Regions from separate parts of the Homo sapiens genome. Here regions 1, 2 and 3 are each reported to be linked to region 4. The links are microRNA targets in miRTarBase. Many come from high-throughput screens and were not tested one by one. Region 4 holds a microRNA gene; each other region holds the end of a gene's coding sequence.

Region 1 (3,182 bases), not on the chromosome of region 4:
TCATCTGTCTAGATCATAGATAGCAAGTGGCAAAGCTGGAAATGGGATCCAGTCTCTGATCTTTCTCACACCAGGGCCTGCCCTTTTTCTATGTGGTGTTGCTTCTCTAAGTACCAATAATATAGTTCCAAGTTTTTTAAGAGAGGGAGAAGCAAGTGGGGTTTGAAGGATCAGGAAATATATAGTACCTGAGCTGGTCATTTAAAACGGGTATGATTTTGATCAATAGTATGGCAGAGATGGCACTCAGGGCAGGAGAGCAAAGTCAGAGAAATTTGCATACCTCCTTTGGGTGATGTTGAGGAGAGCTCAGGCTGATAGTTTCCATTTTGACTTCTTTGTGCTATTTCTGCAGGGAGGTCCTGGCCAGTGAAGCCATCCTTAATGTTCCTGATAAGTCTGACTGGAGGCAGTGTCAGATCAGCAAGGAAGACGAGGAGACCCTGGCTCGCCGCTTCCGGAAAGACTTTGAGCCCTATGACTTTACTCTGGATGACTAAAACAAAGGGAAGAACTTTTTATGAACTCCACAGGAAGTAGTAAAGCTTTTTTTTTTTTTTAATTAAAAGAATTTTTTTTGAGACAAAGTCTCGCTCTGTCACCCAAGCAGGATTGCAGTGGCATAACTGTGGCTCACTGTAGCCTCAACCTCCTGGGCTCTAGAGTTCCTCCCACCTCAGCCTCATGAGTAGCTGGGACCACAGGCGCATGCTACCATGCCTGGCAAACTTTTTTGATTTTTTATAGAGACAGGAGGGTCTCCCTGTGTTGCCCAGGCTGGTCTGTAATGCCTAGGCTCAAGGGATCCTCTGCCTTGGCTTCTTAACCTGCTGGGATTACAAGCATGAGACACCATTCCTGGCCTAGAAGCCTATTTTTAAAGAAACTACAATCTCCCATGGGGACTGTTTCCCTGCCTCTTTTGTGCAGTCCCATGGAACTTGCCTACAGCAAGAGGCCTAAGATTGAATCTTTTTGGGGAAAAGTCATTCTAGGATGAAAATCCTATGTTAAGGCCGGGCGCAGTGGCTCACGCCTGTAATCCCAGTACTTTGGGAAGCCGAGGCAGGTGGATCACCTGAGGTGAGGAGTTTGAGACCAGCCTGGCCAACATGGTGAAACCCCGTCTTTACTAAAGCTACAAAAATTAGCTGGGCGTGGTGCCAGGCACTTGTAATCCCAGCTACTCAGGAGGCTGAGGCAGGAGAATTGCTTGAGCCTGGGAGGTGGAGGTTGCAGTGAGCCAAGATCGCTCCATTGCACTCCAGCCTGGGTGACAGTGAAACTCCATCTCAAAAATAAAAGAATAAAAGTATGTCTGTCATCCAGCTCCTATGTCTGTTATCCAGCTCCAAGTACAGCTTGTGTATATCAACATTTTCAAAAACCTTTAAACTACCAAATGAAATCCAGATGTTTTTCCATGGTTGAGAAGTGTCTTGTGTTCATGTTGCCTGTGACCGTTGAAATGAAGTAGTATGTGTAATAGCAGGGGCTAGAGCTTTAGGCCCAGCTGTTACTCCAAAATCACACAGGGCAGTTTCTCCCTGAACAACCCAAAGTGGAAAAGGGATCCAAGGCTTTTGCTATTTTTCTCTTAAGCATTCATCTTATTCATAGATAAGAGCCCATTTAGTCCTTCGGATATTTAACTCCTATGTGCCAGGCATTTTTCTAAGCTCCAGGACCATAGTCATGTCCCAATATGGTCCCTGTTGTCCCAGAGATTACAGTTTAATGGGGAATAGAAGGGACAGATTTAAGAAAAAAAAGATAATTCTCCTTTGGATATTGTTTTAGGTGCTTGATATATCTAATATGTGTCTGTTGTGCTGCTGGGCAGTTCTAAACTCATCAGTACCTGGGTTGGTTACAGGGCTTTGGGGATCATCAGGGTATAGGCCATAGGTGAAATTAAGATAGGGTAAATACAGTCCTGAGCTGAAGATGATTACCTGAGAAATATCAGTATTTAAGGAGTGCTTGAAAATAGTGATCTAACATTTACATAGAGAAGGAGCAAAGAGAATGCTACATATTAGGCGCAAAAAGAAAAATATTTTTACCTTTATATTGGGCACTTATGGTCCAGACACTGTTTCATTTAATCTTCACAAAATCTCTGTGAGGTAGGTATTACCTCTATTTTACTCATGAAAAAAAAACTGAGACTCGGAAAATTGAAGATTGTGGAGCCTGGGGTCAACAGGCTTAGGCTTTTTAAAAAACAGGCCAGGTGGCTCATGCCTGTGATTGCAGCACTTTGGGAGGCTGAGGCAGGCAGATGACCTGAGATCAGGAGTTTGAGACCAGCCTAGCCAACACGGTGAAACCCCGTCTCTACTAAAAATGCAAAAAATTAGCTGGGCGTGGTTGCATGCGCCTGTAATGCCAGCTACTCGGGAGGCTGAGGCAGTAGAATTGCTTGAACCCTGGAGGTGGAGGTTGCAGTGAGCTGAGATCACACCATTGCACTCCAGCCTGGGTGACAAGAGTGAAACTCCATCTCAAACAATAACAACAACAACAACAAAAAACAACTCAAATTACTCATGGCCCTGGGAATGGGGGCATTTAAAAAGTTAACCAAGGGAACCAACCTGGTTTCCACAAAGATGGCCACTTCTGGGTCAGCCCAATCATCAGTATCCCTGGGTCCTCAGCATCCCTTCCTACCTCTTTTGACTGGGAATTACGAGATTACAGCCCCACCTACGGAAATTGAGCACATTAGCACTGGCCATGCTGTACATACAGCAAATGAGAGGGCTTCATACTGTTACAACAATCTGTACCACAATTCTCTGTGCGGTCTGCCCAGCTCTAAATGACATGTCCTCAGAGGCATCATCATCTCCAAGTCCATGGAAACCATGCACTTACAGAAACCAGAACCTCCCATACCACATGTTACTAATGACCTACAACATCGACTTCGTCTGTATCATGCAGTGCTCAACATTCTGGTTGCAGCATCACATTTATCAATAATTTGATTCCATGCTGATTCCTTTACTTGGAGTATTGAGATCCCCCAGGTACAGTGAAGGTATGACCCTCTTAAATGGAAGACCAGGAGTTGTTTCCCCTATGCTATGGCAATCCGCCACCCGGAAGCACTTGCTGCACCAACAGCATTCCCAAAGCTTGCCTCTGCAGCCCTGTAGCACCCATTAGAAACA
Region 2 (3,182 bases), not on the chromosome of region 4:
AGAATTTGGCTCAGAACAGTAACAAAAATATTTACATTAAAATAAATTAACATGCAATTACTTAACCATATGTAATAATTTACGTTGGAATATATTAGCCTTCCCATGAGTTTAATAAAAACTAATATTTGGTTTTAGATTCAATACCATCCTTTCAAATATTTGGTATGAAACTTGGTAGCAATGCAATTGTCTGATGTACAGAGCAGATTTCACCATGAGAGATTACACCAAAGAACAGATGTCCCTTCCCAGAACATTATCTCACCCCAGACTCAGAAACTGAGCAGCCAAGCTTCCTTCCCAGGAATCACCATGGAATGTCTGAACAATAACCAGGCCCTGGAGATTACTGCAGGGCTGGCAGAGTTTTAGGAATCAGCCAAACTCTTTTTCACACTAACCCACTAGGAAGGATATAGTTCAAATGTAATGTTGAGTCCTTCAGTTTATTTGAACACTGAAACAATATGTTGTAGAAACCTTCATTTTCCCAAAATAGAAATCTGAAAGATATATGCACATGATTTCTTAGATCATCTAAAAGTACCCATAAAAACCTGTCACTAGGGCCAGGTGTGATGGCTTACACCTGTAATCCCAGCACTTTGGGAGGCAGAGGCGGGCGGATCACCTGAGGTCAGGAGTTCAAGACCAGCCTGGCCAACATGGTGAAACCCTGTCTACTAAAAATACAAAAAAAAATCAGCCGGGCGTGGTGCATGTGCCTGTAATCCCAGCTACTCAAGAGGCTGAGGCAGGAGAATCACTTGAACTTGGGGGGCAGAGGTTGCATTGAGCCACTGCACTCCAGCCTGGGTGACAGAGTGAGACCCGTCTCAAAAAAATAGAACACCTGTCACTAGACCAAATACTATACTGGTAAAATTTCACAGCAGAGAGGAATATTTCATTAAATTCAGCTGATAGGGTCAAGGATACATTAAGTCATTTACAAATCAGATATTAGTATTAAAGTTTTTGGTGGCCTAGAGTGAATTAGAATATGTTAGCATTTTGAAAGTGTTTTTGAAATGAGAGGTTGTGTGGCTCAGCAGCAAAAGCACAGAGGGACCTGGGATCAAACCCTCTCTCTAGCCCCATAGCTTAACAGTCAAACACACCAAGTTCTATAAAATAAAAATTAAAACACCTACCTCATATGTTGAGATAATTTAGGATAATGTATATGAAGCACCTAGTTCAGAGCCTGGCACACAGTAGGCACTTAATAAGTGGTGGCAGTTAGTATTTCTTCCAAGTTAACAATTCATAGCCAGAACTTTGGCTTTTGTATTTTGACACCAATGAAAACACGAATCATGTAGACAGAATCCTGATTCATGGCTCTGGGCTCTAGGTAAAACTCAAAACTTTAATGGACACCCTAGGGTGTTACTCAACACAGTATGAAAGGCTACTGAAGGAAGAAGTGTCTGCTGGTCAGTAGCAAAGATCCTTTTGGGACAGTTAATCTCCTTTTAAAGGCTCTAAGTCCCAGTGGCTTCTCAGCTGTCCTAAGAAGATAAGGACAAGGTCACTAAGGCCACTGTAATTTAGATCCCTGGTCTAAAGTCTCTTGTAAGTTCAGCTAGAGTAATAACATCTTTCAACAAATGGTATCCAGGATTAGGGGGGATATCTGAGATGGGGGAGTGATAGATATGTCCAGTGTCTTGATTGTGGTGATGCTTTCACAGGTATACATATGTCAAGGCTTATCAAATTGTAGGCTTTAAAAACAATAAAGCTGTTTTAAAAAAAAGTGTACTTAAGCCCTTCCTGGTAAGATTTCCCTCTGTTCTCTGACTGGATCACCTTCTGTGATCTTAGTTTGGGGTTAGAGGAGGAAGGATGTGTGTGTGTGTGTGTGTGTGTGTGTAGACGGAGTCTCGCTCTGTCACCCAGGGTGGAGTGCAGTGGCATGATCTCGGCTCACTGCAACCTCCGCCTCCCGGGTTCAAGCAATTCTCCTGCCTCAGCCTCCCGAGTAGCTGGGACTACAGGCACATGCCACCACGCCCGGCTAATTTTTGTATTTTAGTAGAGATGGGGTTTCACCATGTTGGCCAGGCTGGTCTTGAACTCCTGACCTCAGGTGATCCGCCCATCTCGGCCTCCCAAAATGTTGGGATTACAGGCGTGAGCCACTGCGCCCAGCTGGAAGGATTATTATTATTATTATTATTATTATTATTATTTATTATTATTATTTTTGAGATGGAGTCTTGCTCTGTCACCCAGGCTGGAGTGCAGTGGTGCGGTCTCAGTTCACTGCCAGCTCCGCCTCCCTGGTTCATGCCATTCTCCTGCCTCAGCCTCCCGAGTAGCTGGGACCCGCCACCACACCCAGCTAATTTTTTGTATTTTTAGTAGAGACGGGGTTTCACCATGTTTCACCATGTTAGCCAGGGCGGTCTCGATCTCCTGACCTCGTGATCCGCCCGCCTCGGCCTCCCAAAGTGCTGGGATTACAGGCGTGAGCCACTGTGCCCGGCCTGGAAGGATTATTAATGCAAACTTCAGGATGAAGTGATATCCCAGGCAAGGCCTGAAGGTCTCAGTGGTATTAATACATTAGTAAGCAGAGTTCTAAGAAGGCTTCCTCTCTATTATTGTAGCTGCTTTGGCACAGAAAATTGTGACTGTAACTTACAGGGTTTGAGCTAAAATGACCCCTAGTAAGAAGACATCAGAAAGAATAGCATCTACAAAAATAGGAGTGGGGAAAGGTGACTCTGGAAGAGGAGACCAAAAGTGAAAACATTTCTCTGCCAAAGTCACCTGCAGTTCAATACCAGATTTGATTGTTAAGAAACGGTCATCCTAAAGACAAGAACTTGATTCCACTCAGGAGCTCTGGAGAGAAGGTCCATGTCTGTTCCTGGAGGTCTAGTAGATCCTGCGTGTTGTGTAGTCCAGAACCATGCTGGCAGCACCCAGCAGGGCGGGGTCAACCAAATCCGAAACCACCACATCCACGTCCTGCACGGAGGACAAGGCCTGCTGGCGAATGACGTCTTTGACAATGTGGATATAGTGACTGGCCAGGACTCCGGAGAGGATCACAAGGGAGGGATTCATGGTATGGAGGATGTTCACAACCCCAAGACCCAAAGCTGTTCCAGCTATAGGGAGACAAAAATTAAAATGAGTTTCTGAGAGAAGCCAAAATCAAAATA
Region 3 (3,000 bases), not on the chromosome of region 4:
CTCGCCGATGGCTCCCAGGGACCACTGACCTAATCAAGGGCCTCCTCCTTCACACGCCACCCTCCACCCCAACCCCTTTATGCCTTCTTAAAGTCCTTCAGGGAGGGGACCCACCATCAAGATTGTCCTTTCTGGCACCTAACTCTTCTGTCTGCTAGAAGACAGCAATGAGACTGTCCCTACAACGATGATGCTTATGGTGGCCACATCTCAAAGAAGCTGAGAGGGATCTCAGCCCCGTATTGTCACTTGGGAGGCAGAACCCAAATCTTAGTAAATGAAGACTTTCTCTCTTGAACCATTCACAGGAATACTGAAGGTAATGAAAAAATAATGTGTAAACCATCCTTTGGAGCAGAGGCTACAAACTCACATGCCCGCCTGGACCAGCACCGGGCAGACGTCTTACATGAGTGAAGTGCAGTGGGGGATGGGAAGGGCGGGGGAGGGGGTAAAGGTGGTGGGGGTGAGCCGCAGCAGACTTGAGATGACAGCATGCCCCATCCTCCACCCAGAAAACTAGGTATTTTTTATACGTAATCTCCCAAGTTTCAAATATTGGCAATACATACAAAAGGTTATGAAGCCTTATAACTTCTGCCTTAGGCAAATTCCAAACTTAAACAAAGCTCCCTCTCCCACTAAATAAGAAAACTTTAATAAGATGATTACAAAGAAATTAATAAAGAAATAGAAAATGATAGCAGCTTCAAAAATACCAGTCTCCCTGTTTTAAAACAAAATCAATAAAATCAGTGAATCACAATTCATTGAACTCATTCTTGGCTACAAGGAAGCAGCTGGATAGATCCACTGGCAGGCAGCCCTGCAGGATTAAAATGAGGCCCACTGCCAAAAAGCCCCAAATGAGATGCCGTCCTCCTCATCCTCACACCATCCTCATCAGGCAGGGAAGGAATAGGATTAGACTCCCTATTATGGAGAATAGGTTGAGGCACAGAGCAGGAAGGGCCCCTTCTTAATATCATAGAGCCCCTCTGTTGGGTCAGACCAGAACTGGGGGCAGAGGCTAAAGGTGAGACCCACTGCTGTCCAGGAGCAAGGGGCTGGGGGTAGGGGCTACCCTGGCAGCCGGGAGTTCTGGAGCCAGTGATCTAGAGCCCCCCAGCAAAACAGGTTTCCCATTGCACCATTTGGCACTATCCTGGAGAGAGCTGAAATAACAAATCAAAGTTAGGCAGCACCTTGCAGGGCACCGAGCAAATAGTAGGCGCAGTTGTGTGTCTGCTGCGTAAACTGTGCATCATGAATGAAGGGAGCTACTTCCCTCAGCTAGTGCCTCCCCTCCAGGGAAATCCAGGAGCTGCCTTTGCCATTCCGAAGACTCTGGATTTCTCCAAGGCAGGCAAAGAAGACAAGGGAGGTAATGGTGAGTTCCCTCCGTGAATAAACACATGGATTTCCCAGCTCTAAGGGAACATCATCGATTCTGTCAGACTCACGGACACAGAGGAAGGGATTCCAGAACCTCACAGAAACAGAGAGCCCGGAGGGGCTGTGTTTGCATTGAGCTTGGGCTAGGACCTGAGAGCTAGAGCAAGTCCTATACCCAGTAGTCCAAGCCCCTAGCTTTCCTTCTGTTTGGTGCCTATAGGAATTCCCTAGCATCCTTATACCCAAAGGACTTGGCACAGAAAGTCGATGTCAACATGAGAAAGAAAGAGGCTCTTTGTTCTCACCGGCATGTGTGGCTATTTCTGTCCTGGCCCTGCAGCACGCAGACCGTCTTGGCCCTGGCCCGACAAGCCCCCAAGGCAACAGTGTAGTCTTTATTTTGGCTTGCTCTGGGAGCCAAGGTCCAGGGAAGCCTGACCCTCTCTGCTCTGGGGGACTCTGACAGGGAGAAGGCATTGGCTCAGCCAGAATGTCTCAAAGGTACTACAATTGGCATTGAATGGACCAATTCTTTGCTGTCAGAGACTGTTCTGCACATTGTGGGATGCCCACTAGATGCCAGGGGTGCCCCCACAGTCACTGTGACCCCCTCAACACACACACATTTCCAATGCTGCCTGGAGGGACAACCTGCCCCTGGTTTAAAGCCACTGGGCTGGTGGCCCCCTCATGCATTTGTGAAACAGAAGCCCCAGAGACTGAGTGACATGTTCAAGGCCATGCCTCAGCTCTGATGACTTCTGGTTCAGAGTTCTTCCCAGCTGCACTCTCAACGATGGGTGCCCATGCATGTGCCCAGAACACTGCAGACACACCATGGGGTGCCACAGCTCTGCAGAGCCTCAAAGCGGACAGCCATCTGTCTCAGTGGCTCAGAGAAACCGAGACAGAGAGACAAAATAACCTCCCTGTGATCAGACTTAGCAAATGCTGGGTGGGGAGTAGGTTCCCAGGGGAGACACTGTTTTAGGTCCTGCTTGTCTTAGTAAGCCCCACTGTCTAGCTGGTAACTGTGAGTGTGGCAGGCCTCCAGCAGGCGGGGGTTTCTGCAGTCTCCATGGAGACCTGGGGGCCAGTAAGACGGAGCCAGGCCCCAGTCTGTAGGTTAGAGCCAGGGACAGCGCAAGGGTCCAGCCTTCATCTTGAGTCTCCGGTGGGCTCAGCAGGAGTGTGTACGACTCCATCACAGGCTTTTGACCCCCTTCCAAGGTCATCACAGTCTCCATTGGGAAATATGGCTGTTAGTGGCAGCTCCTCCTCAGGTTCCTGGAAGTCTTCTGGAACACAGGAGAAGAAATCACTGAATCAGAAGAGAAAGGTTGTGAGTGAGTTATCTAGGAAGGAAAAGGAGAAAGTTGTCCCCAGCAAATACCTACTTAAAAAACAAAACAAAATACATATCAAAAACCTTAACGATGTACACACCCTTTGACCCACAAATTTCACTTCTAGGATTTTATCCTAAGAAAATAATTAGGAATAATTAGTGGAACTGCTGGAGCTATCTTGCTACCAGCCTAAGGATGAAACTGACACTGAAGATGGCCCAACAGAGAGAAAGAGCAAACCTGGGTGTTTGGTGGG
Region 4 (3,182 bases):
AAACAGTTTTAAGAGAAAATATATGCATCTATTCGTGAATTTTATATGTCAACAGAATCCAGTGGCATCTGCTAAAGCAGAAAATCTACTACGAATAAACATTTTATTCAAGTTTAAGAAACAAGGAGAAGCAGGAGGATGGCTTGAGACAGGGAGTTCGAGGTTATAGTGAGCTGCGATTGTGCTACTACACTTCAGCCTGGTGTAGACACTGATGAAATACACAGATGAAAGAAAGAAAAGAAAAGAAAAGAAAAGAAAAAAAGAAAGAAAGAAAGAAAGAAAGGAAGAAAGAAAGAAAGGAGAAGGAAAGAGAGAAAGAAAGAAGGAAAGAAAGAAAAAAGAAAGAAAAAGGGAGGGAGGGAAAGAAAGAAAGAAGGAGGGAGGGGGAGGGAAAGAATGAAGGAAGGAAGGACAGGAAGGAAGGAAGGAAAAGAAAGAAAGAAAGAAAGAGAACGAAACAAGGAGAAACAGCGCAATAAAATAGATGTTGTATCACAAATCCATAAGATAGAAAGGTCCTACTTTTGAAATAAGGTCAAGAAATCTCTATTCCCCAGACTGTAAGCTACTTGAATGCACAGAATCTGCTTTTGTCTTCATTACACTTAGCATAGTGCCCTGTATTTAGTAAGTCTTCAAAAGATGTTTGTGCCATTGCAAAAATGAATGTCAATAATTTTAAAAATATGCCCAATTTGTTACCAAAAGAGCCAACCATTAAACATTTACTGTCAAGCTTCATTGTGGTATGTCATAGCTTGAAAACACTCTGTAACACACACCTTTTGTGTACTATGAGATTTGAGTCTTATAAGATCAAAATGTGGATAAATCTCTACCTGCAGTGTGGCAAATGATAAGATGTGATTGGCAAAGTCTTTAATGTTCAACTTCCCAATGGCCCAGCCGTGTACTTTATTCTAACTAGCATTCCGTGTCATATAAGAAGCCTCCCTTATTTCTAATCATTAATCACTCTTAAAGATATATGTGTTTCATTGTTTTCATTTAAAGTGAATGTAAAATACATTTAAGTAGAGATGTAGAGACTGACAATATCCAATTCTACTTTTTATGGTTCGAGGATTCGTTATCATCAGTCAATTGAAGAAAATACTACTTCCAGTATTAGACTGCTAAAATGATTATCATTAAAGATAAATAGATTATGAATGGAAAATACCTTTCATATATTAAGTATTATATAAATATGTGTCGAACAAAAAATGTATGAAAATTTATATTTCAATGATGATTATATTTACTTTGTAATTACTATTATTTCACTATTATAGTATAGCACAATTTCTTCAAATGTCAATTTTGAAAGTTATAAAGTTCTATAAAGCAATCTTACTTCCTGGCTTAACCTTAACCTGTAATATACTTCAAACTCAAGGACAGAAAGATTGTAAAATACAGTAATAATATATTAATCTTCTTACATCTATTCATACTTTTACAAAAATTTTCCAGGCAGCATTACACAAGGTTAAATACAAAGTTAAAAATCAAGAATCTCAGTCCCTTTACCGCTGTTTATTTTTGCCAATGGAGTATATATTTTATCACTGCAACATTATAATCTGTGAACAACACATGGCTTAAACATTATGTTGTGTTGTTTAGAAGAAATGGCCTGAGAAAAGTAGCTTGCATTTCAAAATCTTTAAATTTCAAAACATTACCACTGTGTTCTACCTTGAGGAGTTTAAAATTTCACAGTCCCACTGATCTGAGAGTCCTCAATGCATTGATTACAACCAGCGGGTCCATCTTCTATCCCAACGAAATTAATCATGGTAACAGTTGCCACTATGGCCTCCTCCCTGCATTTTCCAAGCATGGAGGAGGACAAGTGAGCACCTGCCTCCTAGATTTTAGATTGAAAATATCACCCGAACACACCAGGATTCTTTATACTATGGCAGAGTATAACCTTCTGAAAAAGGCCAAGAGTCTCCTAATGAGCACATCCATACATTGATCATGATGTTTTCCTTTAAAAACCAAGTTCCTCCAAGAATTTGTAAATGGAATTTAGCAATATTTACAATTTACTCATCAATAAATGGCATTTGAAATATTTATTTCACATTGTTTTGTCACATAGTTTAAAAATTTGATCAAAATATTTATAGAACTACTTTTTGTAATAGGAGAAGCCCTTTTTCTTTTAATAATAAAAATAATGTGCCAAGTAAAATATTCATTTATGAAACTGCTCAAGCAAAAGTAAAACCAGAAATATTCGAGATCATTAAGGTTATCCATTCTTCTTGTAGAATATTACTGAAACCTACAAAAGTATTACAAGACACATGCACATGTATGTTTATTGCGGCATTATTCACAATAACAGACTTGGAACCAATCCAAATGTCCAACAATGATAGACTGGATTAAGAAAATGTGGCACATATACACCATGGAATACTATGCAGCCATAAAAAATGATGAGTTCATGTCCTTTGTAGGGACATGGATGAAATTGGAAATCATCATTCTCAGTAAACTATCACAAGAACAAAAAACCAAACACTGCATGTTCTCACTCATAGGTGGGAATTGAACAATGAGAACACATGGACACAGGAAGGGGAATATCACACTCTGGGGACTGTGGTGGGGTGGGGGGAGGGGGGAGGGATAGCATTGGGAGATATACCTAATGCTAGATGACGAGCTAGTGGGTGCAGTGCACCAGCATGTCACATGTATACATATGTAACTAACCTGCACAATGTGCACATGTACCCTAAAACTTAAAGTATAATAATAAAAGAAAAAAATAATAAATAAATAAATAAATAAACGTATTACATAATGGTCAAAAACATATTACAAATTATCACTTTAAGAAGGTTTAAAATTGTACAAGGATTCCATTTACAACATATTTGATCTATATGCTTGCTAACCTAAAGATCTTGGTTATATAACATCTCATACCTCTGCATTTCAAAGATGGACAGTGACAGACATTGTTAAATTCCTGTTTGAAGGTATTAAAAATGACAGACTTTGTTTCTAAATTATGAATTTCCACATTATATTGAACTCTCGGGCTATTTTGTTGCTCGCTCTCAATTTGTGTTTACTACATTGTTTGGGGCATGAGTAGGTTTTCACTAGCTCATCTGAGAGGAAACTCCCTGTTTCTGAAATTCTTTAAGTAG

Evidence for each region. The annotated mature microRNA hsa-miR-764 reads GCAGGUGCUCACUUGUCCUCCU and lies in region 4 at 1,852-1,873, opposite strand. An mRNA with a match to its seed (bases 2 to 7 or 8) in the 3' UTR can be bound and repressed. Matches are read on the target gene's strand: a 7mer-m8 pairs with bases 2 to 8, a 7mer-A1 pairs with bases 2 to 7 and ends in A, and an 8mer does both.
Region 1: miRTarBase lists CWF19L1 as a target of hsa-miR-764. Seed matches in the 3' UTR shown: 7mer-A1 at 1,076-1,082.
Region 2: miRTarBase lists GNE as a target of hsa-miR-764. Seed matches in the 3' UTR shown: 7mer-A1 at 2,095-2,101.
Region 3: the mRNA of C2orf72 is a reported target of hsa-miR-764. The part of its 3' UTR that is shown has no 7-base or 8-base seed match.

The regions. Positions count from the first base shown.
Region 1 is chr10:100,230,545-100,233,726 of GRCh38, reverse strand. CWF19L1 (CWF19 like cell cycle control factor 1) reads left to right here. Exons shown (of 14, transcript NM_018294.6): 14 at 356-1,429. The coding sequence ends at 500. It overlaps CHUK-DT (CHUK divergent transcript), which reads right to left. Exons shown (of 4, transcript NR_186419.1): 2 at 2,601-2,712; 3 at 284-496. Among named protein-coding and RNA genes, the nearest start is that of CHUK-DT, 2.5 kb to the right of the region's middle. RefSeq lists a silencer at 2,822-3,084.
Region 2 is chr9:36,214,473-36,217,654 of GRCh38, forward strand. It overlaps GNE (glucosamine (UDP-N-acetyl)-2-epimerase/N-acetylmannosamine kinase), which reads right to left. Exons shown (of 12, transcript NM_005476.7): 12 at 1-3,128. The coding sequence ends at 2,893. Among named protein-coding and RNA genes, the nearest start is that of CLTA, 25 kb to the left of the region's middle.
Region 3 is chr2:231,046,575-231,049,574 of GRCh38, reverse strand. C2orf72 (chromosome 2 open reading frame 72) reads right to left here. Exons shown (of 3, transcript NM_001144994.2): 3 at 1-2,693. The coding sequence ends at 2,554. It overlaps LOC112268432 (a long non-coding RNA gene), which reads left to right. Exons shown (of 2, transcript XR_002959456.2): 2 at 1-699. Among named protein-coding and RNA genes, the nearest start is that of PSMD1, 8.8 kb to the left of the region's middle.
Region 4 is chrX:114,638,136-114,641,317 of GRCh38, reverse strand. MIR764 (microRNA 764) reads right to left here and starts at 1,883; the gene lies at 1,799-1,883. All of the region lies in intron 2 of HTR2C (5-hydroxytryptamine receptor 2C), which reads right to left.